6 separate regions of the Homo sapiens genome follow, and regions 1, 2, 3, 4 and 5 are each linked to region 6. Evidence: fine-mapped expression QTL. A gene starts in region 6. Each other region holds a variant in brackets. All regions are shown on one strand. Distances are from middle to middle.

Region 1 (5,076 bases), 21 kb before region 6:
TTTCTAAATTTTAGCAGTGCCTTGCACATAGCGGGCCTGCAAGAAATGCCTGCTGATTAATTGAACTGGCTGCCCCCGAAGCCATAGGACTGGCATTAATTGCTATGGCTCTTTGGGCTTCCTGAAGGCCTCATTGCTAGGAAGGGCCCTCTCCTGCTTCCTCAGCCCCCCTCTCCTCCTCTCACTTTCTTTCTGAGACCCATGGTATTCTCTAACCAACCATTAGCATAGTATCGAACTCCAGTCACACTGCGGTTTATTTTCCATCCACAATTGATTTTAGACTAGGGTTTTAGATAAGCCTCAAAAGCATTATTCTGGCTAAATGAAGCCAAACAAAGTATTTACATGAAACGCTAGAACGAACAAAGCTAATATATAGTGCTAGAAAGTGCAAAAGTGGTTGTCTGGGGCCAGTGATTGGGGGCACTGGTGAGGCAGAAGGGATACTAACTGTAGAGGAGCATGAGGCAACATCAAGGGGTGATGAAAATGTTCTTTACCTTGATTGGGGTAGTGTACCCGGATATATACATCTGCCAACACTCACTGAACTCCACTCATACCCATTAGAATGGCTACTATTCAAAACAGAACAACAGAAAACAACAAATGTTGGTGAAGATATGGAGAAACTTGAACCCTTCTACACTGCTGGTAAGAAAGTAAAATGGTACAGCCACCGTAAAAACAGTATGGTGGTTCCTCAACAAATTAAAAATAGAATTACCATATGGTCCAACAATTCCACTTCTAGGTATACATATACCCAAAAGAACAGGAAGCAGGAACTCGAAGAAATGTTTGCACATCCATGTTCACAGCAGCATTACTCACAATAGCCAAAAGTGGAAGCAAAACAAGTGTCCCTCAACAGATAAATGGATAAACACAATGTGGTGTGTGTGTGTGTGTGTGTGTGTATACACATATATACAGTGGAATATATACAGTGGAATATTATTCAACCTTACAGAGGAAGGAAATTCTGCCACATGCTATAACACTGATGAACCTAAGGACACTAAGCTAAGTGAAATAAGCCAGTCACAAAAGGATGAATACTACATGAATCCACTTATATGTACTCAAAGTAGTCAAATTCATAGAGACAGAAAGCAGAATGATAATGCTGGAGGAAAGGGAAGAGGGAGTTACAGCTAAATAGTACAGAGTTTCAGTTTTACAAGATGAAAAGAGTTCTGTGAATGGATGGTGGTGATGGTTGCAAAACAATGTGAATATACTTAATGTCACTGAACTGTTACATTTAAGAATGTTTAAGATGGTAAAATTTCATGTGTATTTATTTCACCACAATTTTTAAAAGTTGATTTTAAATGTTAACTCCTTAAAAGAAACGATGGCTCATCAAACTAACCACTTAAGATGGGTGCATTTTATGGTGGTATAAAACCTAAGTAAGAGGTCAAGTTCTCAACCTAAGTAAGAGGCTCACAGTGGCCTCTCAGGGAAGCACGCTGCTGTTATCCATCACTTAGCAACGCCCACTCTAAGGCAAAGTCCAAACCAGTGGAATCCATGTGGCTTTTGCACAGCATCATGAGTAAAATCCTCTCCTCAAGTATAACTGTTATTTAAAGAGAAAATGTGTCAAGCATGGTTAGGGTTATATCATGTTTCCTGATCTGTTCTCAGAGTTATTTTAGAATCAAAGTCCCTCGAGGAAACATGAAAGATCGCTTAATTTCATGTTCATCTTTCAGAAACACCATTGGTAAACTATTACAGGTGAGTGTGAAACTAATACAGAAATCCCAACAGGTTGATCACACAGGAACCCCAAGACGTTCATCACAAACTATTGGCATTGATCTCCAGTTCTTGTCTGTTCTATCACCAGGGATTCTCATCTGCACTTAGGCCCCTTCAGTCTCTTCTTATGGGTTACAAACTACAGGCCTCCATTTCCCAAGACCAAATTCCAAGGTTGGCCAGTAACGATGGTATCTTTTGTTGTCTTAGCAATCATAAGTCTTAGAGATAAAAGAAGAGGACCACGTCAGAAAAAAACTAAGGTCAGGTGCGGTGGCTCACGTCTGTAATCCCAGCACTTTGGGAGGCCGAGGAGGGCAGATCACAAGGTCAGGAGTTTGAGACCAGCCTGACCAACATGGCGAAACCCCATCTCCACTAAAAATATAAAAATTAGCCAGGCGTGGTGGCGCACGCCTGTAATCCCAGCTACTCAGGAGGCTGAGACAGGAGAATTGCTTGAACCCAGGAGGCGGAGGTTGCAGTGAGACGAGATCACGCCACTGCACTCCAGCCTGGGCAACAGAGCGAGACTCTATCTCAAAAAAAAAAAAAAAAAAGTATTATGTCCTGTGGTCACTGAAGTATTTAAAAATTAAAAATAATATCAGTTTGTCATTTAAAAAAAGAAAATGAATAAATTAAAGTACAGGAGGGAAGGGATTTGCAGTGAGTCAGTGATAAAGCTAGACCATTTTCCTTGTTGGGTTCTATTTGCCTGGAATATAGGCATTATGCAGCCCAGAACTTTCCTTCTGGCTCTAAAAACACAACATCACCACCTCTATTTGCCCACGTGGGGAAAAAACAAAAAGCCCTCTCTTTCCAGATGAACCAGAAAAGCAGCTTTGTTTCCTACACAGATTTCAACTGGCTCCACCTCGGAGATCTGGAACTGAGCAGAGAGTAAGCACTGCTCTCTTCAAAGTCTCACTTTGTTCTGGGGCCTCCCGCGCCCCGAAGTCATCAAGTTCCAGCTCTGTGGGCAACTCCTCCTCCCCTTGGATCAGCCATTCCCTCTCTGGGCCAGGGCAGGGTTCTGTCCCCACATCTTTCCAAAATTC[A/C]AGCTGATTCCGGCAGAAGAGCACAAAAACAGAACTGTAAAATTCTTCCACAGTGGATTTCTGATTCACGTGAGGAACTTACTATTTCTGATGCAGCAGCCGCTCCCAGTTTCTCATTCAAGATTCTCGTGAAGGCACAGGGAAGAAAAGGGAGAAACTCATGACACAATGGAAAAGACTAGGATGGTCATGAGATAATGTTAGAAGCTGAGAGGAAGTGAAACGGACTTACGGCAGATGGAGCTGGATGAAGAGTATGTGAGTGTGAGTGAGTATGAGTGTGTGTGAGTGTGTGAGTGAGTGTGTGTGTTTATGAGACAATAGGGAGATGGGGTCTGCCTCTCTAGCAGCTCTGTCTGATGTGGGGATCTATTCAGAACACCCTACCCTGAGGTGAGGAGCTGTGAGGTAGGCCCATAGCTGGCCCTCCTCATCCAAAGCAGGCCGAGAGGTGTTGGGGCGCGAATCATGGTGGCAGAGTAGATTCAAGGAGGCATGATCAGTGAGAAGCACCCTAGCAGAAATCCATGCTAGGAGTTATATTTTTAATATACATAAATACATACTTATTTATTTATTTTTGCCCAGAGAACCAGGCATTTGTGACAGAAAAAGAAGCAGAGAAGAACAAAGGGAAAACCAGCTAGCAACTGGGAATTAGACCAGGCCCATTACAATCCCTCCTCTGCTGTAAAGCTGATGCTAACACAGAAAGGTGCACGTGGTGGCACTAAAGTGTTCTGTTCACTATGTCTTTTTTTTTTTTTTTCCCCTAGACGGGGTCTCACTCTGTCACCCAGGCTAGAGTGCAGTGGCACTATCATAGCTCAGTGCAGCCTCCAGCTTTTAGGGTCCAGTGATTCTCCACCTCAGCCTCCCAAGTAGCTGTTGCTACAGGCATGAGCCACCTCGCCTGGCTCCTCACCCTGTCTTTTGACAGACTGTCTCTATACCCCAATATGGTGCCACCAGCTGCATGTTTCTGAGCAACTGAAAGTGGCTAGAGAGACTGAGAAACTAAATTTTAAATTTTGTTTCATTTTAATTATATTTAAATTTTGAAATTGATGCAGTATGAAATATTTCCCCATTACACACAGCTTTATTGCTCTGGTAGGGCTACATTGTTCAACCATTGTATGTGTAGGGCACATGTCAAGCATGTGGCATCTTTTCTAGTATTACACGTAATCACTAATCTAGTTGGTGCCAACAGATTTATTCACTTTGATATTTTTCTAGGCACTGATGCAATATTTTAATGTATTTATTTGAAGAAGTTTTACAGACAGCACAAGTTTGAGTTATTTTAACATAATTAAATTATTTTCTAGTTAAAAAGTAGCTATGGACACATTTTAAGTTTTTTTTTTTTTTTTTTTAAGACAGCATCTTGCTCTGTCACAGACGGGGTCTCACCATGTTGTCCAGGCTGGTCTTGAACTCCTGGGCTCAAGCGATCCTACCACCTCAGACTCCCAAAGTGCTGGGATTACAGGCGTGAGCCACTGCACCCAGCTACGTTTTAAGATTTAAAACAAAGGCACGTTACTGATGTACAATTGAGTGGAGTAGCAGAAGCATCACGGCTGGCACAGTAAAGAACAAGAGATGGAATTGACAAGAGAGTTCGTGAATTAACTTGGAAAGATGCAGTTTTAAAAGCGAGAGCCTTTTCACTTCGAAGTGAAATTCTTTTAAAAAACATGAATCAGTTTTTTCCATGTGGATGCAAATATTAAAGGAAAATTATTTTAGGTACTTGATTTAGTTATTGGAAAAATTTTTGAAGTATGTTTGAAATAATTTGAGCATGTAAATTGATGTGAAAACTGAACATTTCATGAAATCTAAATACAGACATTTGATGAAAAATTTGCATTCAGATTTGGATGTGCTATCAGTTTAAAATACACATCAGACTGCTACAACACAGCACGAAAAGAAGCCTATAAAATATCTCATTAATAATGTTTATATTGATTACATGTTGAAATGATATTACTTTGGGTATATTGGGTAAAATATATCTATATTATTAAGTTAATTTTGCCTGTTTCTTTACTTTTTTGAATGTAATTACTAGACAATTCAAACTTGCATTTGTGGCTTACTTTATATTTATTTATTTTTTAATTAATTAATTAATTAATTAATTTAATAGAGACGAGGTGTCACTATGTTGCCCAGGCTGACCTTGAACTCCTGAGCTCAAGCTATCCTCCCACCTTGGCCT
Region 2 (5,076 bases), 110 kb before region 6:
ATGTTCAAACAGAAATTCTATTTTCAATTTTGTATATGTATATATAGTACTAAATAGAATTATTCACAAGCACTAGAGATTTAACTCAGAAAGGTAAATCAGTAGTTATTTCAAAAAATTTAAATTATAATTAGCAAAGACACATTTGCTTCAACATGAAGTTTAAGACTTTAGAATAAGAAAAAATCAAAATAAACAAATTTAAGGAGCACTAATAGAAAAATCACTTATGATCTTTAAATACTTCAAAAGTCATTTTAAAAAGTCTCATCCAAAATCATGTACTGGTTTATTAAATTAAAGAACATCCATATTACAGAATACTAGATAATCATTTAAATATTCTAGAGAGTATTTCATGAAATATGATATGGGAAAATACTCATGATATGTAAGCACAGAAAATTACTTCTATAGGATGATTCCACTTTGGCATAAAGATGTATACCTTTTTGGGATTAATAATAATTTCTACTTCTTTCCTTGTTCTTTTCTATGATCTATATTACTTTATAATCAGAAATATATTACTTAAAATTACAAATTATGTTCTCTTACCTGAAGGTACTACAGCATCTTGTTCAATAATTCTTGCAGAAGCCAGATCACTGATAATATATTGTAACCTTAAATGTCTGAATACTGACACAAATGGTTTTCCTTGTTCAGTTTCAAGAAAGGCCATACCTTCAAAATCTATAAAAAACCATGTAAGTTAAACAGCCATTCTTTTCAAACCTATTATTCTTAAATGTTTTTGTGGACGGGGGATACGTACATTCATGTCTATTAGAATACAAAATAAGCTAGTTTTAAAGTTCTCAAGAATTTTATAAACCTTAGGTTTACAGATAAGAACATAAGGAGATTTATTTTAAAATCCCAGGAAATTAACTTTGGTCTTAATGAAACCCCCAGGCTGGGAATTCAGCTGTTTCTGGGCATTTGGCATGTATAGTGCAGCAAGTTGGGAAAGGAAGGCTTGAGAAAGGTACTTAGGATTACACATTCTCGCCAGAATCCCCCTCCCAAGACCTGAACAGGCCAGTGAAACTCTGGAGCCCAAAAGCCTCACTCAAGGATAAGGTACACAGGACAAAGAATATCTCTTAATTTCTTTTAACTTACATTTCAGCTACATGTAATGAACACTAGTTAATATATTAATTCTCTATTGAAATACAAAATAAGAAAGACACTGTATGGCTAGGCGTGGTGGCTCACGCCTGTGATCCCAGCTACTCAGGAGGCTGAGGTGGAAAGATTGCTTGAGCCCAGGAGTTTCAGCTTGCAGTGAGCTATGATTGCACCACTGCACTCCAGCCTGTGTGACAGAGCAAGAACTTGTCTCTAAAATAAGTAATAATGATAATAATAATAATAATAATAATAATAATACTGAAAATAGAATAATTTGGCTGGGCGTGGTGGCTCACGCCTGTAATCCCAACACTTTGGGAGGCCGAGGAGGGTGGATCACGAGGTCAGGAGTTCAAGATCAGCCTGGCCAAGATGATGAAACCCTGTCTCTACTAAAAATACAAAAAAAATTAGCTGGGTGTGGTAGTGGGCATCTGTAAACCCAGCTAACTGGGAGGCTGAGGCAGAGAATTGCTTAAACCCGGGAGGCAGAGGATGCAGTGAGCTGAGATTGCGCCACTGCACTCTAGCCTGGGTGACAGAGTGAAACTCTGTCTCAAAAAAAGAAAAGAAAATAGAATAATTCAAGTTTATGAAGTATATAATTTTTTTTCTTTTAGGGAGAATTTAAGGTTATTCCTAAAAATTACCCTCAGTTACATTCCAGTGTGCTTTCATGAGTCAGAAGGAAAGGTTTAGAGTTACTGCTATCAAACAGGTATTTGTGCATGAGCCCTAGTCTATGTTTTCTGTTAAACGACATATACCCAGGAGAGTATGTATACCCAGTCCTGTTGCTATTAAGGATAAGGAGAAAAACATGACAGTTGCCATTATAGACTATTATGTCTCAAACCATGCTTCACATGGAACACAGGTTTTCTGTAGACCAGAAGGTGTTCCCCACTAAAATATTTTTTTCCTGAAAATTGTAAAAAGACAGCCAAGTTAATGAAAAGAATTTCCACATTATCTCATATATTTTTTGTATTCCCTTGGCACCTGCCTAGAGTCAGCAAAGCAAACAAGAAAGCAGTAAATTCATTAAAAAATTAATAGTTAACTTCACTTATTTATACAACAGGTGTGTGACAGTGGATTTATATCTCTTGA[G/T]TTTAAAAATAACAACATTGGTTCCAGTTCATATGTTGAATTAAATGTGCCAATTTCAGGGGGTGTGCTGAGAATACCATTTTGTTTTTACAAGTGTTCTGTCACATGAACAAGATATAAAAATCTAATTCTGGATTGTCTCATAGAAATCTGGTGATTCTAACTCATGAAGCCTTTTCGTCACGGCTGTAGAAGAGACTGGCTCATTTACTTCTGTAAGAATTTATAGAACCAAAAAAAATGTTTTAAAGTTTCTTGCTGGACAACATGTGGCCATACTTATTCCATCAGCCAAATTCAATAGCAATCCTTAAGTATAATTGTGTAGAAAACTTTCTAAATTTCTGTTGTTTCTTGTAGTCCTGATCCATATAGATCTGAAAAGTCAAATAATTAAGAAAACTTAAAAGAAATATACAAAAATATATGGCAGGTGTGGTGGCTCATGCCTGTAATCCTAGCACATTGGGAGGCCGAGGCAGGCAGATCACTCGAGGACAGAAGTTCAAGACCAGCCTGGCCAACATGGCAAACTCCATCTGTACTAAAAATACAAAATATTAGCTGGGTGTGGTGGCATGCACCTGTAGTCCCAGCTACTCGGGAGGCTGAGGCAGGAGAATTGCTTGAATCTGGGAGGTGGAGGTTGCACTGAGCCAAGATCGCACCACTGCACTTCCAGCCTGGGTGACAGAGCAAGACTCTGTCTCAAAAAAAAAAAGACAGACAGACATATGCCAAAATATAACGAGTGAGGGATCACAGGTGATTTTTCTATCCTATTTCCTAAGTATGCATCTTATTTATAATTTTAAAACTATTGAAAATGACTCTGTAAAATCTTCATAGAAAAACAAGAGCATCAGACATACATTTTGGTTTGTGCAATCAATGTCTCCTTGAAAAGTTATCTTGAACTGTATACTTTCACACCTCAGGGGCTGGGAGGGAGAGCCTCAAGTGGGAATCCAGAAGTGGACCACAGCTTGCTTCTCTAGTTTCTGCCACTTAGGCTACAGGGCAATTTCTCTTTTGATTGATTGCTGTGGTGGATCTATCTGGAGCACAAATGATCATAAGGTTCTATCAACATTTGCCTAATATCTACTGTTTCTACTGAGTCTCTTTGTCTTTTTAACTTCTTCACCATCCTTGTCTCTTTCAGCTTTTCTCTCTCTTCTATTTAAATGCTTTCCCCTACTTTTCTCCTCTATAATTTCCCTAGTCCTTCTTTAATTGCCATAACGTAACACAAAAGTATAATTTAAGATACAAGTTTAGTATTTTTGTTCTTCAAGGAAATCAAGTTATATTTCACTGATATGGTTCTTTACACATTTTTACTTCAGGAACTTTATAGAAAATTAATTTATCTGGCTCTGAGGTAGGTAATTTGACTACATAAAATAATTCTATAAAATGTATTTAACTAAGATATAAAGAGCATGAAATTTTAAAACTAAGAATATCTATTCATCAAAAGACATTTTTTTTCCTTTTGAGACAGGGTCTCACTCTGCTGTCCAGGCTGGAGTGCAGTGGTGTGTGGCCATGGCTCACTGCAGCCCTGACACCCCCAGGGTCAGGTGATCCTCCCCCCAGTAGCTGGGAATACAGACAAGTACATGCCACCACGCCCTGCTAATTCTTTTTTTTTGAGACAGAGTTTTGCTCGTTGCCCAGGCTGGAGTGCAATGGCGCAATCTCGGCCCCCTGCAACTTCCGCCTTCTGGTTTCCAGCGATTCTCCTCCTTCAGCCTCCCTAGCAGCTGGGATTATAGGCGACCACCACCATACCCGGCTAATTTTTGTATTTTTAGTAGAGACAGGGTTTCACCATGTTGGCCACGCTGGTCTCCAACTCCTGACCTTGTGATCTGCCCACCTCAGCCTCCCAAAGCGCTGGGAGTACAGGCGTCAGCCTCCCAAAGTGCTGGGAGTACAGGCATCAGCCTCCGTGCCAGGCTGCCCTGCTAATTCTTTAAACTTTTTGTAGGGACAGGGTCTTGATATGTTGCCCAGGCTGTCCTTGAACTCCTGGTCTCAAGTGAGCCTCCTGCCTTGACCTCCCAAAGTGCTGGGATTACAGGCATGAGCCACGGCACCCAACCAAAAAGACATCTTTAATAAATTAAAAAGATAACCTACAAACTGGAAGTGCAGAACATATGTATGACAAAGGATTAGTTATCAGGAATACATAAAGAATGCCTACAAATCAATAAGAAAAGACAAATCTGACATTAAAATAGGAAACATACCTGAACAGATATCTCACAGAAGAGGAAACATATGGCTAATAACCATATTAAGAGTCATTCAATCTCTTTAGTTATAAAGGACATTAAAATTAAGGCCACAATGTGACATAGTTCCATAACAACTAAAACAAAATGATATATTATACAGTGGCGTGTTGCTGCTAGCTCATAGGAGCTGTGTGCATCTCCTTTCTCATTCAGTGATGTCATGTTGGTAGCTTGCAATCAATCAGCCATGATGGGAAAATTTGTACCATGGGAATTAAGAAATGGTACTAATCAAGGATTATTTTTTCAGAGTCAGCTTATTAGCACACCACTATGTAATATATGTTAAGACGTATATACATGGTGCAATAATATATATTTATAAAGCAAAAGAATAAACATGAAGTTCAAGATAGTGGTTAGGAAAAGTCAGAGGGACACAATAGAAAAGAAGCACATGAGTTAAGACTGAAGTTACTGATGTTCTAGTACTCAAAGATTAGGTCACAAAGGCTCAACGTATTAAAAATAAACCAAAAAGGTGGCCATAAACTAAGAAAATCACGAACTAAGG
Region 3 (5,076 bases), 26 kb after region 6:
TTTAGTTCCTGGCTGGTGTATTACATCCCCCCAAGAATCTCTTAAGAGATTGTCAGGTAAAGAAGGAAGGGTGAAATGACAAACATCCAGAGGGTGGGGGTGCCATTTATATTGCAATCCATCTCCCAGTGGTAGCCTTCTTTGGGAATTCTGACCAGCTGGGGGGACCTTTCCCCACAGGTTCAAGCTTTTGTCTAGCAAATCTGGGGTCCTCACTTCTGTTATGTAGATGGGAAGCAAGGTTCTCCTGGGGTTACACAGCAGGAACTTGACATTTGGAGAATGTGATTGATGAGTTCTGTCCTCCCACAGAGAAGTCCCATGGTGAGAGAGGGCTCTAGAAGCCAAGTAGCCAGGGGACTTTCCAAACTAAACATCTGCTATGAAATGCAGACCGCACTGAGCTATGCCTGACCTAGCTAGACATACAGCCTTAGGGTATCAAGCATCTCCCTAGCCAGGGTTTCCCCATTAAAACTATTCCTTTTAATTCCAGCTTTCTTACTTAGAGGACCCCTGCTGAAACATTCTAGAGGGAAGGGAGTGCATAGGTTGTGTACGTCTCTTAGTTTGCCTGTCATCTGGTAGAAAGCCAAGGCCCATAGGGATCCAGGCACATTCTAGTTTAGTTAGTGCCTGAAACAAGCAAACTGGATGAGGTACCAGTCCCAGGCATCAGGAAGGCTCAGGGCATCTGCTGCAGAGGCAAGGCTTTGTGGGGAGGGGTCACAGGGAACAACATATTCCAAAGAAGATGAAACAAAGAAAAGCAAAGTTTCCAGTTAGATACGTGGAGTTAAAGAGGAAATGGCGGTAACAGAAAGATGCAGCGACGGGTAATTCCAGAAATGAAAAGGATGGGACATCAGGCCTTTCTGCTTCAACTCAAAGTCAGATCCCTTGAACTCACAAAATAATATTGGCTGATACCCTGGAGAGGGAGGCCTTTGTTACCCTCATTTATGATGCAGGAATAATGATCAAATGCCACCTGCTTGTGTCGATGAGCCAGGCCTGACAATTAAAGGGTGGGCGCCAGGATGGGCTTTGGGAGTGTGGGATGAAAGGCACTGGATGAGAACAAAGGGGCCATGGTGGGAGTTTTCCAGCACCAGCCTCAGTTTTCTGCACAGAAGCCTCCTGCCACCTCAATGCCAGCTTTGAAGGCATAGGCAGGCAAAGAAAACCAACAAGCCAAACAAAATGCATATGGATGCTTTTAAATGGGCATGTTCCTATTCAGTGGGCATGAATTGGAGAATATTCATCTTCAGCCACCTCCTGCACCCTCAGGGCGTCAGCTCCTCCTTCCAGGACCACTGAAGAGATGGAGCCCCCACCCCAGCCCCTCTGCTACACGATGCTGCTTTACGGTCTCCCCTGCACTTCCCTTGTTTCTTGATTGGTTTCTCTGGTTATCATCTGTTTTGTCTTGCCACAGTGTGATGCCAGGGAGCAGAGGCTGGACGGTGTTCTCCTCCACACAGTGCTTGGCCAGTAGTAGGCAGACAGCAAACAGCTGAATTGATGACTCAGAAAAACTTAAACATCGCCAACTCTGTCATCTCTTTTAGTAAACCTACTGGACAATTCCATTTAAATGTATGATACTTACTTCAAACTGCACATGAACAAAACACAACTCTTTTCGTTCTTGCCCTCCCCTCTGGCCAATGACCAAGTCAAAAACGTCGAGTCATTTTCCATCCTGAGCTCTTCACCTGGATTCCCGGAGCAGCCTCATAACTAATCCGCTGCCCTCCTGTTGTGCTGTCTCTCAGACCCGTTCTCCCGAGTGATCTTCTCAAAACGAGCTTGAGCATGTCACACCACTGCTTGAAACCCTTTGGGGGCTCCCTGTCGCCCTCACATAAAGACCAAACATTTTAACCTGACAAACAAGGCCTTCCCTGATGTGGCTCTCGCCCGTCTCTCCAACCCCCTCTGCA[C/G]ATCTCAGCTCAAGTCATCCTGAGCTGCTCGCAGTTCCTCGAGTGCAGCTGCTGTTACGTTCACCCTCTGCCTCTCCTCTTATCTTTCTGGTGAATCCCTTTTTTCCTGGTTCACCTGTTCTATGAAGACTTTTTTTGACCAGTATTGTATTTCTCAGGACTCTTGACTTTAAGGGACAGAAACCCAACACAAACTAGCTTCAGTTAAAAGGGGATGTATTAACTCATTTAAGTAAGGACTAGACAGAGCCACCACAGGAATGGCTAGATCCAGACACCCAAACAATGCTGTCAGCTCTCTCTCTCTCTCTTACTCATATGTACATGTATTTTGGCTTCTTATTATGAGTTGGTCTCATCCTTTCTTGCTAGAGGAGACTGTACTCACAGAGAACTCTAGACTTACATACAGTTTGATCACTCCAGGAGAGAGTGAGGCTTCTTTCTCCCAGTCTCAGGTTATTAAAATTATGGGAAAGGCTAAGAGTAGCCTGGCTGGTGACGTGTGCCCAGCACTTGGCCCATGACTAGAGGGACAGTGTTGTGATTGACCATGCCTTGGACTCTCTTTCTTGACCTAGGAAGAAAGAATGGGTATTCCTCTTGAGGGAGCAGCTGCCAGATAAAAGAGGGAGTCTGTTATCACATAAAGAGGGTAGACCACTGATGTCTCCTTCTTACCCCTCCCTCCACCTCCATTTATGTTCCCACTGCCCTCTGTGCATAGGCACAGAAGGGGACAAAACACATTTTGGACTCAGATAGACATAGAGCCAGTTACTGGCTTTATAGTAACTATGTGACTTTGGGAATGTTTTAAGCCTCTTCGTGCCTCTGCATTTGCATCTGTACAATGTTTTAGGGATGTGTTGTGAGGGTTAAAAACCTAGGCAAATTATCTGGGACATAGTAGGTACTATGGCAGTCATAACAATTATATTTGACCATCTCCCTTTTCTAAACCATGATTTGGCCAGGCGTGATGGCTTATGCCTGTAATCCCAGCACTTTGGGAGGCCGAGGTGGGAGGATCACTTGAGACCAGGAGTTCAAGACCAGCCTGGCCAATATGGTGAAACCCCGTCTCTACTAAAAATACAAAAAGTAGCCAGGCATGGTGGTGCGTACCTGTAATCCCAGCTACTTGGGAGGCTGAGGTGAGAATCGCTTGAACCCAGGAGGGGGAGGTTGTGGTGAGAGGAGATTGCACCACTGCACTCCAGCCTGGGTGACAGAGCGAGACTCCATTTCAAAAAATAAATAAATAAAATAAAATAAAAAACAAACCATGATTTGCTTGAGGCAGGGCCTTATTTTAGGCAAAATTTAACTTGGTTATAAGAGCAGGGCTCAAATATATGATGGATTGATTTCTGTCCACTGAAACAGGATGATACTGAAAGATAAGGCAAGTTTTGCAGATGAGGGAGATATTCAGTTCTGTCTTCTTCAATCTTGGCTTTATGATACTGGCCCATTGTTATTATGTAGTCTTCTGTTTCAAGCTCTCCAAAGCATCTCCACATCTGTTACTTGACTTCACTGTGTCACCCTGGAGGGAGGACCTTGCGTTAGGCTTCATGAACAGATCTGATGAGGTATCCACAAGACACAAGGTTAACCAAGAATGGGCAGCAGGGGGCGTTGTGGACAAGCCCCGGGGAAGCCAAGGGAAAAACTGCAGAGGTTCTGAACCTAGACCTGCCCAACGTCCTGCTGACCGACTCAGGCACCTCCGGACCTGGGTGTCTGGCTATTGATTGGGTACATGCTGAAGCACGCTTGCCTCCCAGGGCATCCCATCACAAATTAGGCCCCAGCTCTGGGATCTGGCCCAACGCAGGCCCTCTCCCATGTATAGGAGCTGTGGGGACAACACAGGAGGTTAATGGGAGCTCGGCCAGGATCCCAGGAAATAAAGCACTGAGGTTTGATACACTGATGGGCACACTGTGGACAGCAGGCTGGCTGGACTGGGGCAGGTGGAGTGTTATGTGAGTTTTCGGTCACGTGCCCTCGCCGAAGCCCCGTCTCTTATATTCTTAGGCTTCCTTCGGCTTCGGTTGCCAGGAGTAGGTGCTTGTATTCTATAGAGTCGTTTATATTTGAAATCCTGCATGGATGCATTTGGTCCTCACCGCATCCTTCCTCCCTTCCGGAAACTGTACGCTCCCCTCCTTAGAAGGTCACTTCTCCACTCCATGGGGTTCTGGTGGGGCTCCCAGAATGTGCCCACATCTCCACCCTTACCCCACCCCCCGGCCCACCCAGCCACTGGAGGTGGGAAAGAGCTAGGGCTTGTCAGAAGGCAGACCTTGAAGGAGAAGAGCCTCCCAGTAGGGAGGTCAGGAATGTGCTCAAAATCCAGGCTCAGATGTCTTCAAAAGCCTGGAGAGATGTCACCCACCAGGCACTGTGGTCTTTGGCAACTCATGTGGGACAGAGGTGTAGACTAAAGAATGTTCTGCCCCATTCTCTTGCGGAGGACAGAGCAAGGGAGAGTAGAGCTCCTTCCATATTCGAATTTCCCTTTCTCCTCTTCACGGCAGGGAGTCCGACCTTTGTGTTCCTCCATCAAGTGGAATTTGTGCTGCAGGGTAGACAGCGAAAGCTGCTGAGGCATAACCGTTTTTCCCCCATTCTTTCTTTTTGTGAAAGGCAAAACTCCTCAAAGTCCTAAACTGTTAAGAGAGTTAGGTGCCCCAAGAGGAGACGGGAGAGCGGTGATGCCTTCAGGGCAGCAGCAGAAGCAATGGAAGGATGGATGAGGAACCCCACAAAGGGGAGAGAACTCTGGAGTCTGTGAAGAGCGGGGAGCTGAGACCCAACTCGTTATGTTACGGGTTGTGTGTTGCTGGATCCGGCAGGTAACAGCTTGCTGGACTGAATGTTAAAGTCTCAAGAGTTTTACAAACTGATTGACTTTACTTTTTAAATTGGCTTTATTGAGGTGTACAATTTACATACTTGGAAGCAGCTATGGTAGAAGTGTTTTTACACCATGGAGATTGGCACATACTACAATTCAGGGCTTTCTCTCTGCCCCAGAGCCAGCTGCTAAACATTTACCAGCACACCACCGAACATAAGAGTGGCTTCTTCCAATCTTATCATCCACATATCGCTT
Region 4 (5,076 bases), 40 kb before region 6:
ATTAGGATTAATATATAACAAGGTGAATCGATAGAGGAATTGGCAAGGGTGGTTCCGTTTATCAGTTAGCATTCTTAATGACTCTTTTTCTCCAAGAAAGAGATCAAGAAATGTGTTCCCTGTTAGCATGATAAATATCCATATTGATTGAATTTCAGAGTATAATAGGCCATTATCCATTCTGGGAAGACAGGGAATTCTGTCCCAAGAGGGCCCATTGTGATAGCAGGCAAAGGAAACAGAGAGGATATAGGAAGGAATGACAAAAATGAATAGATAGAAATAGGTGCCATATCACAATTGATGAAATATTGTTATTACATTAATAATGAAGAAGATACATGCCAAAAAGATCAGAGTACAATACAATGGAATACTAATGAACAATAAAAAGGAATGGAGGAACAAAACTACTGATGCAACAATACGGATGAATTGCAAAAGAATATAATGCCCAGAAAAAGAAGTCAGACACAAAAGAGTACCTACTCTATGATTCAATATATAGGATGTTCTAGAACAGGCAAAACTAACTTATGATAACACTCAGAACAGCAGTTGCATTTCTTGTGTGGAGTGGAGGGTGGGAAGGGGAGTTAATATGAAACGGGCATGGAGGAGCTTCTAGGAATGATAAAATGTCCTACCTTGATATGAGAGTAGGTTATGTGGGTATATATATGTATTTGTCAAAACTTAACGACCAGTAACCTTAAAGGATGTGCATTTCACTATATGCCAATTATACCTCCATAAAACATGTTTTAAAATCTTGAATACAATGATTTAAAAAATATTATAGAGAATTTGGAAAATTTTTTAAAAATTAAGAAGAAAGCTGGGCGCGGTGGCTCACGCCCGTAATCCCAGCACTTTGGGAGGCCGAGGCGGGCAGATCATGAGGTCAGGAGTTCGAGACCAGCCTGGCCAACACAGTGAAACCCTGTCTCTACCAAAAATACAAAAAATTAGTCAGGCGTGGTGGCGAGCGCCTGTAATCCCAGCTACTCAGGAGGCTGAGGCAGGGGAACCGCTTAAACCTACGACGGAGGTGGTAGTGAGCCAAGATCGCGCCACTGCTCTCCAGCCTGGGCAACAGATTGAGACTCTGTCTCAAAAAAAATAAAAATAAAAATAAATTAAGAAGAAAATTAAAACACTCATAACCACTAGAGTAAATAATTTTAATGATATGAAATGTAATATAAACATTACATTATCTCATTAGCATAGAGAAGAGATAAAGCATAAGATCAGAGTGAATAACTTGTTTCCTATTTTCCTATACTAAGTGGGGTACAAGGAAAGCTACAAAACTATTATTTATGCTCTTATTACTCTTATTTAAAAATCATTATACATATGAGTAAGGTCTAAAATTAAAAAATGGCAAATAGTTGGTGTTTCCAATGTTGCGACTGTATAGTGTGATTTTCTTTTTAAAATGTCCTTTATCTGTCAATAAATAATAGTCATGATAGAAAAACAGGTTTTAGGAGGAAAGATGAGAGCAACTGAGGTAATTTTCTCCGAGTGGAAAGCACACAAAGGGCCACTTGATTACAGTCTTCATTTGTAGGAAAGCTGTGAGCCTGCTGAAGACAGGAAGAGCATCTCATTAATTCTGAGTCCTAGTCCCACATCTGCCACAAAGTAGGGGCACCATAAGCATTTCTGAATAAATATTCTCCACGTTGGCTAGGCACAGTGGCTCATGCCTGTAATCCCAGAACTTTGGGAGGCCAAGGTGGGAGGATCGCTTGAGGCCAGGAGTTTGAGACCAGCTTGGGCAACATAGCGAGCCCCTCATCTCTATAAAAAATAAAAATACGTAAATATTTTTAAAAAAATTCTCCATGGCCAGGGAGAATCAATCAGCAAGAAAATGATTTTAAACTAAAGCATGAGAGATTTGGGGCACACATGAATAAGCCTTTGACTGTCAGAGATCATGAAGAAAATTCTGGAATATCTAATGCAAAAGAAATTAAGAGTATATTACTCTTTGTTCAGGATAGTTTACTTTACACACCCATCTTCCTAAAGGAAGGCATCTCAAGCTGTCAGGCTCTCCAGTTCCTCTCTAGGTATAAGATTTCTACTTCTATTATTGCTTCCTCCAGAAGACCACGGATCAGAATTACTTGTCTATTCAGAAACCGTATTTGGGCAAGAGAAGGAGAGCAGATGTCCAGCCTTAGGTACAGCCATGTTTTCAGCTAAGAGGCTCAGCTTCCACCTCAGAGCTGAACTTTACAGAACTCTCAAAGGGATTCAATTCGATGCTTGTTCCAAAGAGCAAATAACCAAGGTCCAAGGTGTCTGATTACTGTCTAAAGCAGGAGGCAGCCAACACACCCATATTGTTAAGAAACACCCCTCTTGATGAGCCTGAAATGATGTGGCTACCTCAGAGTATCGATAGCAGTCCTCTTCAGGTGGTAGAACCTAAAGAATTTTTAGTTTTTCCTTTTTAAATGTTCTAAAATAAACATGTAGCGCTTCTGCAGACAGAAAATTACAACTTGTTTCTATATTCTCAGGATGTTAAAAGAATTCAAAGAATTCTCTCTTTGAATCAGTTTTCAAGGTCAAGTTGCTTACCACCCCTAAAAGAAATTTAAATGATGTTTAGAAATAGACCTGCCTTTTCATGTCCTCCTCCTTCCCCTCTGTTGAGTAAACAATGCTTTGTTTAAGCTAACAGTTGCTGAGCCCACATTCTGTACCTGTTGGCAGCTGGCACCAGATAGGGTTGAGGTATTTCACAACTTACCATGGCCATGACTCTAGGTCAAGATCAGAGTTCAGCCACCCAAGCAGAAGTTCTTCTGTGATAAAAGCAGAGGGGAAATTACTGTGATGAAGGAAATGGCATTAAAATCATTAATCAGGATAACTTGCAGTTTGCATGAAGCTAAGCCATGAGGAAATGACACCCAACTTAATCAAAAGGCCAGTTACTGATTAGCCAAAGATACAAGGAATGG[G/C]CTAATTAGAGAAACTGTTAAAAAAAGTCAACTTTATCACACTGGTAAAATATTTTCCCACCTGTTCTTCTGTTTGGAGATACACACTACAGAAAGGATTCCTATTGTTTTGTTAGGTTAAGTACCAATACTTGTACTCAAGCTGGACACAGATTCTGAACTGAATGTTACAGCAGATCAGAAGAGGTTCCCCCTTTGAGAAAAGAGATAATCCAACTGCATCAGAGGAAAGTACAGCATACCAGCCTCCCCTCTGTGTGTGCATCTGTGTGAGTGTGTTTGTGTGTGTGTAATGACAGGCCGGCAGCCCAACCAACATTAGAATCTTTTCGTTTCCCAGTGGCGATTTTCACCGCCACCATTCTAGGATTAAAGATTTTCTTCCCTTTAAGCTGCAGGCTTATACACTCAACTTTGTCCTCGGTTTTCAGCACCCCCTCTTTCATCATCATCACACATTTTTTTCAGTTGTTCAGAATGCAAGAAATGTCTTCACTGTAGTCTAGGACTCTTGTGGAGTTCTCATGACACATAAACAGTCCCCTAATGGCAGCCCACCACCTCCTATTCCCATATCTAAGTCATATAAACAAGGCACCTTCTCTTTTCTTGTTTTTTTGAGTCAGGGTCTCCCTCCATTGTCCAGGCTGGAGTGCAGTGGTGCAATCATAGCCCTCTGCAGCCTCGAACTCCTGGACTCAAGCGATCCTCCTGCCTCAGCCTCCCGAGTCACTGGGACTACAGGTGCGAACCACCTGGATAAGGCTCCTCTTCTCAGAGTTTAGTTAGATCCTTGATACTCAAAGAGTCATCCTAGAACCAGGAGTACATGCATTCCTGGGAACTTGTTAAAAATGCAGAACCTGGCTGGGCGTGGTGGCTCACGCCTGTAATCCCAGCACTTTAGGAGGCTGAGGCAGGTGGATCATTTGAGGTCAGGAGTTTGAGACCAGCCTGGCCCACATGGTGAAACCCCATCTCTACTAAAAATATAAAAATTAGCTGGGGGGTAGTGGCACACGCCTGTAATTCCAGATACTTGGGAGGCTGAGGCAGGAGAATCACTTGAGCCTGGGAGGTGGAGGTTGCAGCGAGCCAAGATCATGCCACTGCACTCCAGTCTGGGTGACAGAGTGAGACACTGTCTCAAAAGAGAGAGATAGAAAAAAAGCAGAATCTCAGGTCCCTACCCCACACCTACTCCCAGAATCTGCATTTTTACAAGATTCCCCAAACATTTGCCTGCACAGTAGTTTGAAAAGCACTGGTCTAGATAATCTGACCAAGCAGTGTGCCTTTTGATGATAACTAAGTCCTTCTTAACCCACCTGATTACCATTTAGGCCTTGTTTGATCACATTTGCTTTTTACCTTCCAGTTTCATTCTTCCTGTTTCCCATCATTCATTGCCGACTTACCCCCTATTACCTGGGGGTTCAACTAAGGGGAGAACCAACTAGTCCTGGGACACACCCTGAGCAAAGGTACAGAGGTGGGAATGAGCTGCAGTTTCAGGAATAATGAGGAAATGCGGGAGTGACAGCAGAGGGCTCATTCCAGGGAAGGCTCAGAAACAAGGTTGGAAAAGCCAAAGTGAACTGAATGGTATGGGCCTTGCACGGCCGGCTGAGGAGTCTGGCTACAGAATACCATAGGTCATGGGAATACTGTGGAAAGTTTTTTGTTATTTGCAGACAAATGCCATAATAAAAGAAAAGCTTTAACAAGGTACTGTACTTTACTATAGGGTAAACTGGAAAGAGAGAGACTGGAGTGAGAGAGAAGGAGTTAAGAAGGCTTGAGAGACAGCTACAGGAACAGATGGGTAGAGGCAAAAGCTTGGGCAGGGTGTGGCACTGGAATATGATATATGGGGGATGTCTGGAAGGAAGACTTTATCAGAAGTAGTGACTCATGGACTGTGTAGATTTACTCATTCAATCACCAAATGTTCCTACATGACCTCTCACAGCACCTCTCCAGGCACTGATAGAGATAATGCAGTGGATAAGACAATGAACCTGCTGTCAAGGCATTTATAGTCTACCAGGAGAGATAGACGACACATTTATTTATTTTATTTTAT
Region 5 (5,076 bases), 660 kb after region 6:
GGAAAATAAAGGGAAGATGACGCAAGAAGTGAGAATAGCATAGAAAAAATATGCTGAGGAGCTTATTTCCTTGCTAGAGTGGACTTAGTTCCAAGCTTTCTAGTAGCAAACGAAAAGGACAGCCAATATTTATGAGCTTTCTCAATCTGTGGAATGAAAACAAATCAGTTTCTCAGAAGAGGTAATATTTACCCATTCCAGAGAGAAATCTGGGCATCCTTATAGAGAAGCATTGCGAAAGAAAATGAACAAACATGCTTAAGAAAATATTAAGATGCATTCATTGAAATAGGTTATCTCCCAACCATGTATTTTAGGTAACTCTATGTACCTGAATGTCACCAAAAGCAACATTTCTTCTTGACAATTCTAAAATTCAGATTTTCTGACTACTTTTCCTTCACTCTGTAGAACTTCATGGCATTTTTATACTTTGATTCCCCTATTTGTTTGCAGCATCCTTCTGACTCCGCAGTTGGAAGTAATTAGTTCCTTCAGCTTCTGCCTCATTTCCTCAGCCTCTGGCTTACCTAGCCACCTCCACCCACCCCAGACACAGGTGCAGCCTCAGTTCCTCCCTGGTCCCTAAGTCTATCCTGACTGTAGCATGAAGGGAATGCTCCGGACTCCCATGTCCCTTGCCCATCTCTGTTAGAGTCAGCGGTCCTCACACACCTGCTCTGGGCACCTGGGGAAAACACTGAGCTCCTGTTTTCCACTCATTGTCAGTCTAACTTGGGAACAAGGACCCCAAGGATATATCCTGGGCACCTGTGTTTCCCTGCTGGCTTCCCCAGTGCCTTATGGTTGATCTAGTCTTTTCGGTCTCTTGCGCATATAGCACCGTATTAGGACTGGGACTTGCTAGCATCCTGGTGCACAGTGATTCATCCCAGACAGCCCTGCCTGAATTGTGAAGATTGTCCATTTGCCAATCCCTGAACTTGCTGCTCTTGGGCTCTTCCTGTTTGATGGGGTACTTCAGCCAGTGGTTGCCATGACCAAGGGAGGAAGCCACCCCCTTTGACTTGTCCTCAGGCACAAGTCTCCAGACAGCCCACATTTGAGAAATAGAGGTAGCCCAGAGGGAGAAACTTATTAAACAGTGATATTAGAACAACACAAAGCTGTTTTTTGATGTTTTAAATAAAATTCCTCAGGCATTTGACATCTCCTAATAAATCATTTTATCATCCAAAACTAAAGACTTCAAAACAGTCCAAGAATTTAAAAAGAGCTTTTGGACTAGTCCTGTTCCCATTCCCCAAACACACACATGAAATTTTTACCCAACCCGAGTTTCAACCAACCTTTTTGAACCAACTCTGATCCTTAACCAGGGATTGGTAAAGGAACCATCCGTGGATCTTTAACCACAAAGGCACACTAACAGGGGTTGTCATAATAAACACATGCTGTATTATTCTCTCAAAGTGTCTGCAATTAGCTGATAAATCTAAGGGGTGTATGGAGGGCCAAAAAATGCCAGCCAAGCACTGTGATTCAATCCAGTAAAAACACAGCTTTCCCAATCTTAACTTAAAACATCTGGAAGGATGCAATACAGCCAATAGAGTAAAATTTATCAGTGAGGGGGATGGGCAGGATTTGTCTGGGACTGGGGCTCCTACTCATTTGAAATGTCTGGTTTCAAAAGGTAGGAAGTCACAATGGCAGTTGGTGGATTTGAAGGGTTCTCGTGGTTCTTAGCAGCCAAGACTGTATGGTAATCAGCCTGTCTGAACTGTAGCAGACAGCAGATCAGCTCAGGGACTGGAGACTGTGTGGGGGTAGGGAGGCCCGGGCAGTGGTAGCCATGGCAGAGGTGTAGACACAGCACTGGGGAATCGCTGATGGGAAATCACTAGATGCAGTGGAAGAGACTTACACAGGGTAAGGCTGATGTTAGAGGTAAGAGGCTTTAAGGTGAGGGTATGATTGATCTGCAGAGGAGAGAGGGATAAGATAACTGCATGCCTCAAGTATAATCCCATGTGAAGAGTTGGGTCTTGGCCCTGGTCCGTATTTACCTGACCTATGCTCCTTTACAAATCCCTTAACTTTTCTGAACCCCAATTTTGGAAAGCAGTTCAGTATCCTGAGTAATTGCTTGGAATCTGGAATCAAATAGCTGAGGTCAACTCACTCATGAGCAGTGTGACCTTGGGCAGGTTCCATAACCTCTCTGAGTCCCTGTTTCCTCTCTATAAAAGTGGGATAACAATAGTATCTACCTGAAGTACGAGCATAAAGTTGTTGTGTGGGAAGATTAAATGAGATCACACAGGCAGAGCCCATAGCACAGTGCCTAAAACCTGATAAGTAATCAACTAATGGTAGCTATTACTATCAAGAACTTAAGCTCTGGAGACTGAGAAGATAGACTTGGACTCTGAATGGGTTTATATTCAAATCCAAGTCCCATCACTTACTGGCCATGTGGACTCGGACAAGTTATTAAACCTCCAAATCTCAGTTTCCTCTGCTGTAAAATGGGATAAGAAAAACACCAACTTCAAGGGGCTGTATGATGGTTAAATAAAATAACAGTCATGAACGCAGAGATATTTTGTTTGGAAAATCAATCAGATTTAGGTAATAAAATTCATATTGGATTGGACGGTGAGGGAGAGCATGAGATCAAGGAAAACTGACAAGGTTTTTGTCTTATAGACAGAACTAGACAGATGTGATCGATCCACAGAAAGTTAATAACCCTTGGGTCACCAGCCAGCATGAGCACCTTATGAAAATAAGGCACCAAGAAGAGTGGTCAAAATGACCTTGGCAGTAAAGCACTTAAGAGAATGTCTGGCATGTATTCAAACAACAGTGGCTGTTAGCTCTTCCTTTGTCATTACTATTGCTACTGCTGCTACTTTTGGGCGTGGACCGTGGTTCACATGTGCTTACGCCCCATCGCCCACCCCTGGCCTTCTGCTTAATCATATTTGCTGACAAAAGCTGAACCAAGGTTAATGCTATTTTCCTGCCAACTTTTGGACAGATTTCAAAGAGAAAATAGATGGAAAAGTATGTTTGAAATCCATAAAGAGCTAAATAATTGTCATGTGTTGTTTCTGGTAAGTTGACTTTTGTACATCTCATTGGATTATTGGTGGGAGGACGAGTAAGAGAGGCAGCGGATGTACAAGAACTTTGCCAAGTTACAGGAGCTGTTTGATAT[A/G]TTTAAAGTGAAATCCACTGTGGACCAGTCCGGGTTGTATAGAAGAGTTTATTTTTTCAAATTCTAAAAATCTAATGTCCTTTGTCATGAAGTTCTCAGTTTATGCAGAGATTTCTCAAGAATCTTTACAGAACTGTGAATATCTGCACAGAGTTATAAGGAATCCCTCCCTTATCATAGGCACGGCATTTCTTTTTTCTACTTGCTCTGCTTCTTGCTTTAATAAACAACCAATCTTTATTTACTTGGCCATTTCCTGTTGGAGAACTTTTTTGTGTGTTTATAATGGACCAATCTCTTTTATCCCTTGATGGTATAGGTGTCTTTTGCTTTCACACATATTTCAGAAAGTCTTTCAGAGCATGTTCCTTGGTGTCTTATTTGTTGTAAAGGGCAAATTCTGGTTTAAAGATGTATGGGGTTTGAAGTATGCTGGTGTCAAGGATGGTTAAGTATCTACCGACCATTTACATCTGTTCAGTTGTCTAAGACAAAAACCTGAACGTTTAAGTTAGCCTTGCTCTCTCTGTCACTCTCCAAATCCAATATGAGTTCTGCCACCTAAGTGCTGGTGATTTGACCAATGAAATATCTCTATATCCATGCACATTTTAATGTAAACTGCCATCCTTTAGATAACTTATCCTAGTTTATAATTTACAGTGTTTTTTTTTTATTGTTTGGTCACTGTCTTCTTAGATTATAAACTCTACAAGGAGAAGGACTGGGTTTGTTTTTACTTATTATATTCACAATGACTAGCCTGGCACATAGTAGGCATTAAATAAATATTGGATAAATAAATGAATAAATGACACACTTCCTGCACGTCTTAATAAACTGGCATTGTAGCATATTATGTATTAATCTCCCTTTCCCCCTATAAGTGTAACCTCAGGGTCTTCTGAATACAAGTCCATATGCTGCATCTTGTAATACTCCCCTCGTCTGATTAAGTACCACCATCTTTGGGGACTTGCTGCCTTCCCAAGAGGCCAATTTCAACACCTCATTTTTAAAAAATTGCTTACCTTAAAAAAAAATGTTGTAGGCATATCATAATCCCCTGTATTAGGTCGGCCGCTTTGTAAAGGCCTCAACCCCTTTTCTTGGGAAAAACATAGAGAACTGTAGTTGGCAGGTGGGGCCCAGCCTCCCACAGAAGCGCCACAAACATTATTACAGCTGATGGCAGAAAGCACATTGGATAAGCCTGGGGATAGCCAGGCAGCTTGGGACACACAACTGGCTCAAACACATCTTCAGGACTGTCAATGTTGTCCCCATGAATTTTGAAATGATTTAATCTCTAATTAATAAAATGTTTAAAAAGTTGCCCCGTCTCTACTAAAAATACAAAAAATTAGCCAGGTGTGGTGGCAGGCGCCTGTAGTCCCAGCTACTCGGGAGGCTGGGGCAGGAGAATGGTGTGAACCTGGGAGGCAGAGCTTGCAGTGAGCCGAGATAGCGCCACTGCACTCCAGCCTGGGCAACAGAGCGAGACTCTGCCTCAAAAAAAAAAAAAAAAAAAAAAGTTGCCTTTTCTAACTAAATTCTCCACACTTTAATAGGCACACATATTGTTAACCATGGACATTACCCCAGATCCATGTCAGTTCTATAGAATCTGACTTTAAATAAAAATGGAATATGGCCACGTGCAGTGGCTCATGCCTGTAAGTCCAGCATTTTGGGAGGTGAAGGTGAGAGAATTGCTTGGGGCCAGGAGTTTGAGACCAGCCTGGGCAACATAGCAAGACCCCATCTCTAAAAAAAAAAAAAAAAAAAAAACTTTACAAATACAAATATGGAATATTATACACACGTATTTCTGGGATTCATATATGATTTTATGTACACTAATACACTATACCAAATACATTATACCA
Region 6 (5,076 bases):
TGGCAGCTGGATTTAAGCTTTCGTTCACAAATGGTCTGAACTTGACCAAGGATTATGATATGGAACCTTGGGATCCTCAGCTGTAAACCAACGTTAATAACCCCATTGCAGGTTGAAGTGAAGATTAGATAAGACAGCCTAGGATGAGTGTTACTCAAAGTTGCTCCAGGGAGGACACTGCAGTGTCTATCAAACTGCCTCCATAAGTAGCCCTAATTGCAGTGAAAACAAACCCTCAAGGGCTAGGTTTGGACCAAATTGCAGCTCAAATCCCAAGCAAAATGTTTTTGAGGTTTCTTGTTTTAGATTTAAAAGGTATACAATTTTTGGATTCTACTTCAAAATATATCTGTGATTGTTTTAGTATAAAAAGTGTTTTTTAATTTCAAATATTTGTGTAAAAATGACACTCAAAGAAAATCTCCTCCTCTTGTTTTTGTTTGTTTGTTTGTTTGTTTTTCAGACAGGGCCTCACTCTATTACCCAGGCTGCAGTGCAATGGTGTGATCATAACTCACTGCAGCCTTGAACTCCTGGGCTTAAGTGAAACTCCCTCCCAGCCTCCCAAGTAGCTGGGACTACAGGTGGGTGTCACCATGCCCAAGTAATTTTTAAAATTTTTGTAGAGACGGGGTCTTGCTATGTTGCCCAGGCTTCCCCACCCCTTGTTTATTCTGGAACTTCAGGTACTCCCTGGCACACTGCCCACAATCCCCAGTGCCTGCCACTCATCTTTATCTCCCTTGGAGAAAAGCAGGCTTAGTCTAAAAGCAGATAATAAATGAGCTCAGGAAAACAAATGAGTGGCTGGACATAAACAAAGAAACATGCCACTGGACATGAGCCTGGGGATGACCAGGAGGCTCACCCTTTAAACACCAAGGCCTGGAGTGGTACATGGCTTGACTGTGCGGGTTACTCTCTAAATTGCTTGCAGAGAAACATTATCCCTAACCAAATGCAAGAACATCTAGGAGGGAAATTCACAGAAGCCCTTGATCCAGTAGTTGTGTGTCTGTGCCTGTCTATGTGTGGGTGGGGGCAGGGGTGTACTTGTGTCTCTATCTTCAATCAACAGAAATCTGACATGAGCTGAATGAGGATGGCCTTGGCCTGATAGGGCTCTGGAGAGTCAGCAGCTCTTGGGTCATGGGGTTATCCGTTTTCTTATCCCTGTCCACTTCCTCTCCTACTTGCTCTTCCACCTGTGTCTGAGAATTCCCTGGCAACTAAAAACCTAGGGTTTGGCCGCTGGGCACGGTGGCTCATGCCTGTAATCCCAGCACTTTGGGAGGCTAAGGCAGGTGGATCACCTGAGGTCAGGAGTTCAAGACCAGCCTGACCAACATGTTAAAACCCCATCTCTACTAAAAATACAAAAATTAGCCAGGCGTGTTGGCACACGCCTGTAGTCCCAGCTACTCGGGAGGCTGAGGCAGGAGAATCTCTTGAACCCAGAAGGCGGAGGTTGCAGTGAGCAGAGATCATATCACTGCGCTCCAGCCTGGGCAACAGAGCAAGACTCCATCTCAAAAAAAAAAATCTAGGGTTTGGTTATCAATAGAGTTACCAGTTACCTCCTGAATAGCTGAGACTATAGGCACGTGGTGGCATGCACCTGTAGTCTCAGCTACTCAGGAGGTTGAGGTGGGTGAAACACCTGAGCCTGGGAGGCAGAGTGAACTGTATCCAGCCACTGCACTCCAGCCTGGGCTACAGGAGTGAGACCTCGTCTCAAAACAAAACAAAACAAAAAATTAAAGGGCAAACAGTAGGGAGTGGAAGGGGGTGGTGGGGTGTCATGGACTGGTGGGCAGGAGAATGGATAACTTGGAGAGGGACACCTTATCTATCCTTCCCACTGTCAGCAGGAGAGAGCAGATGCCCAGTTCCATGTAAAGCACGAGTTATGCAGGACCCACTCTGCTCTGTCAGCTCAGAAGACTTGCATTGCCCCGGGGGTCACTTCTGCCGGTAAATGGTTGAGAAGCCTTCCTCCTTGGCACCAAAGTCTCCAGCTGGTCAAAGTCATGACAAAATGCTGAGACTGCGCCACCAGCCAACTCAAGTCATGGACCCTATAATAATCAGACTCCGATGTGCCGGGCACTGTGCCGAGGGCATTAGACACACGAGAAGGTAAGAAAGTGGTAAGGATCTAGGAGAAAGGAGTAAGTTTCTTAAATGGAGTAAAGAATTAAAAAGTAAACTGTAAGAGGTGTTAGGAGGAGTTAGCTACAGGCAAGATTATCTCGGTCCTTTCTTTTTGATGCAAAGCCTAGCACATGGACTGAATAAATAACTGCCGTGGTCTCTGACCCGCGTCCTGAGCCGTGTAAGCGGCCCTGGATGTCCTGGATGGTGCCAGCGGTTAAGCACCGCGCTCGCCTCCCTCTCGCCCACCCGGAGCGAGTCCAGGGCCCGCTGGCCCCCTCCACCCTGTGGCCGCCCGGGCTTGCCCGCAAGCCGGCGGCGAGCACCCACTCTGGGGTGCAGCGCGGAGCCGGGCATCCCCGCGAGACGCTCCCGGGCCACGCTCCCCGTTCCCTGAGCCCAGGACCCCCGGCCCGGAGCCCCTTTACCCCTCGTACCGAGGCCGGGCTGCGCTCCTCCTCTGCGGCTGCGGAGGTCACACCCTACTCAGGGCCAGACAGCGGGTCTTATCCGGGACGGATCCGCCCCACTGTGGGGTGGAGACTGAGCCCAAGTTCCTGGTTGTTCCTCTGCCCACGAGACCGGAAAATCCCTCTCTAGGGGAAGCGCACCTGGGGCCCCGGGCCGGGACGGCCGCGCCAGGAGCTCTCGGAGAGGCAGGCCTCGACCCCCGGCGGGTCCGCCCTCCACACGTGCCTGCTCCCCAGGCCCGCCCGGTCCCCCGGCCTCGCCCCCTGCCCGGATTGGACAGTGTCCCCAGTATCGCCAGCCCCGCTCCTGGCCGCGCAGGGTGGGAGCAGTTGGATTCTTGGGGTCCCGTTTCCCGGGCGCTCCACACCCTCGGAGGGCCGAGCCCGGGCCACCTCGCCAGTTCCTCCCTGCGCCTGCCGCGCCCAGCTCCGCGCCAAGCCGGAGTCCCGCGGCAAATCCGCGCTTCCCCCCACCTCGGGAAACCGTTCGTCTCCCAACGGCAGGTCGTGCCGAGCCCGTGGCCGGAAAAGTAGAAAGTGAAATCTGAAGGATACATTTCATTCCCCTCTTTCACATGAAAACACACATTCCCAAAAGTTTCCAGCACTTCCCTCTTCCCTGTGCGCCCAGCAGGCCAGGAAAGCTTTGGAGTAGGAGTTAGGAGCAGCCCCGGATCTTTGTACTCCTGTGAGTGACTAAAGTTTAGACACTGTCCGTAGCTCCCAGGTTCGGCTTGGCGCGGCGCTCATCCCTTGTAATAGTTCTGTGTTTTCATATCTGCTTCCCCTGCTGGACGCAGCCTCTTGAAGACACCAACTAGGGCTAGGTCGTCTTTGCACCCATGCCCAGCACCGATTTCGCCACGTAGTGAATGCTTGCAGAATGAATCCGTTGAGTCTATAGGCAAATTCAGTTTTTTTAAAAAACAGAGAATAGCCCGTTTGGGGAGTGTTTTCCATCCGACACATCAAAATCTAAGTGGTTAATGGCACCCTTAAAGCTGGAGAGGTAACATTAAATTATTTCATTAAGATGTAATTTTAAAAGGTGGTTTAATATGGTTTAGAGCACGGGTTTTAGGATCAGACTGATTTGGATACTAAAACTGGTTCTGCCTCTTTTATCTGCATATGATAACTTAAAAAATTAAGGCTGGGCACAGTGGCTCATGCCTGTAATCCCAGCACTTTGGGAGGCCAGGGCAAGTGGATCACTTTAGCCCAGGAGTTCGAGATAAGCCTGGCCAATGTGGTGAAATCCCATCTCAAAAAAAAAAAAAAAAAAAACATATATATAGCCGGGTGTGGTGGCATGCGCCTGTAGTCCCAGCTATTCAGTCGGATGAGGTGGGATAAACACCCAAGCCCGGGAGGCAGAGGCTCAGTAAGCTGAGATTGCGCCACTGCACGCCAGCCTGGGCGACAGAGTGAGACATTGTCTAAAAAAAAAAAAAAAAAAAAAGAGGAAGAAAGAAAAGAAAAAGAAAGAAAAAAAGAAAAGAAAACAAAAAATAAATAAATAATTAGCCGGGTGCATAGCCACGCCTGTAGTCCCAGCTACTAGCCAGGCTGAAGCAGGAGGATCACTCTAAACCCAGGAGTTCAATGTTGCTGTGAGCTATGACTGCACCACTGCACTCCAGCCTGGGCGACAGGGTGAGACCTTGTCTCAAAACAAAAACAAAAACAAAAACAAAACAAAACAAAAAATTAAAGGTCAAACAGTAGGAAAAAAAATGAAATACAGATAATTCATTTCTTAAGCAAGATTAGAGAGACACTGCATCCCTTACAAGCAACAATTAGGCCAGGTGAGGTGGCTCAGACTGTAATCCCAACACTTTGGGAGGCCCAGGTGGTTGCTTGAGGCTAGGAGTTTGGGAGATTATCCTGGGCTACATGGCGAAAACCTGTCCCTAAAAAAGAAAAAGAAAAAGAAAGAAAAAATTAAGCTACATGAAAAAAATAAAGTTTAGGAATGAAGTAGATGCGTTGGCACCCCGCGTAAATAACCTTTACTAGGTGGGTGCATCCAGCCCCAGGTCACTGCCCCTTCATTGCCCCCATCTGCTGACATCTGCGCTCAGACCAGACTGAGGAAGCCATGGCCAGAGGCTAACTTTTTTAGCTTATAAAAGGCCAGGAATAAATCTGTGGTACCCTTCATATGCCAGAGTTCCCATGGGATCAGACTGAGGATAAACTTCATCAGAAACCATATCTTTGCTCAGTTTCTCCCTCTGGCCTATCCTATTTCCCTCACTTACTCGGAGGCTTCCCTCGAGAATACCCTCACTACAGCACTTGCACAAGAATCCTAGGGTCAGGCTCTGTTTCCAGGAAACCTGATCTAAGAGTATTTAAAAAATTAATATAATTGTTGAAATTCCACTCCAAGGAGCCTTTAAATTAAAGATAGGGCTGGGTGCTGTGGCTCACGCCTGTAACACCA

Direction of the effects. Positions count from the first base shown, and alleles are read on the strand shown. Sizes are in standard deviations (SD) of each study's normalised expression. Not every link is listed here.
For the expression in coronary artery of the gene that starts at base 2,633 in region 6, allele G in region 5 goes with a higher level than allele A (large effect, 0.76 SD a copy in GTEx).

What was found. PIP is the estimated chance that this variant, and not a neighbour inherited with it, causes the effect.
Region 1: its variant is fine-mapped to the expression of ANXA4 in whole blood (TOPMed, PIP above 0.99). The same link has a PIP of 0.9 or more in monocytes after LPS.
Region 2: its variant is fine-mapped to the expression of ANXA4 in whole blood (INTERVAL, PIP 0.91).
Region 3: its variant is fine-mapped to the expression of ANXA4 in whole blood (INTERVAL, PIP 0.99).
Region 4: its variant is fine-mapped to the expression of ANXA4 in whole blood (TOPMed, PIP above 0.99).
Region 5: its variant is fine-mapped to the expression of ANXA4 in coronary artery (GTEx, PIP 0.92).

Annotation. Positions count from the first base shown.
Region 1 is chr2:69,760,923-69,765,998 of GRCh38, reverse strand. The region is part of intron 1 of ANXA4 (annexin A4); the gene reads right to left. Among named protein-coding and RNA genes, the nearest start is that of ANXA4, 21 kb to the right of the region's middle. RefSeq lists an enhancer at 3,307-3,366. The variant A/C (reference allele first, on the strand shown) is at 2,841.
Region 2 is chr2:69,850,443-69,855,518 of GRCh38, reverse strand. GMCL1 (germ cell-less 1, spermatogenesis associated) reads right to left here. Exons shown (of 14, transcript NM_178439.5): 9 at 559-696. Among named protein-coding and RNA genes, the nearest start is that of GMCL1, 23 kb to the right of the region's middle. The variant G/T (reference allele first, on the strand shown) is at 2,254.
Region 3 is chr2:69,713,352-69,718,427 of GRCh38, reverse strand. It overlaps a transcript of ANXA4 not described here. Among named protein-coding and RNA genes, the nearest start is that of ANXA4, 26 kb to the left of the region's middle. The variant C/G (reference allele first, on the strand shown) is at 1,950.
Region 4 is chr2:69,779,275-69,784,350 of GRCh38, reverse strand. It overlaps ANXA4 (annexin A4), which reads right to left. Exons shown (of 13, transcript NM_001153.5): 2 at 2,777-2,831. The coding sequence starts at 2,785. Among named protein-coding and RNA genes, the nearest start is that of SMANTIS, 17 kb to the left of the region's middle. The variant G/C (reference allele first, on the strand shown) is at 2,991.
Region 5 is chr2:69,084,494-69,089,569 of GRCh38, reverse strand. All of the region lies in intron 8 of ANTXR1 (ANTXR cell adhesion molecule 1), which reads right to left. Among named protein-coding and RNA genes, the nearest start is that of MIR3126, 17 kb to the left of the region's middle. The variant A/G (reference allele first, on the strand shown) is at 3,188.
Region 6 is chr2:69,739,691-69,744,766 of GRCh38, reverse strand. It overlaps ANXA4 (annexin A4), which reads right to left and starts at 2,633. Exons shown (of 13, transcript NM_001153.5): 1 at 2,592-2,633. RefSeq lists silencers at 2,365-2,604, 2,815-2,994.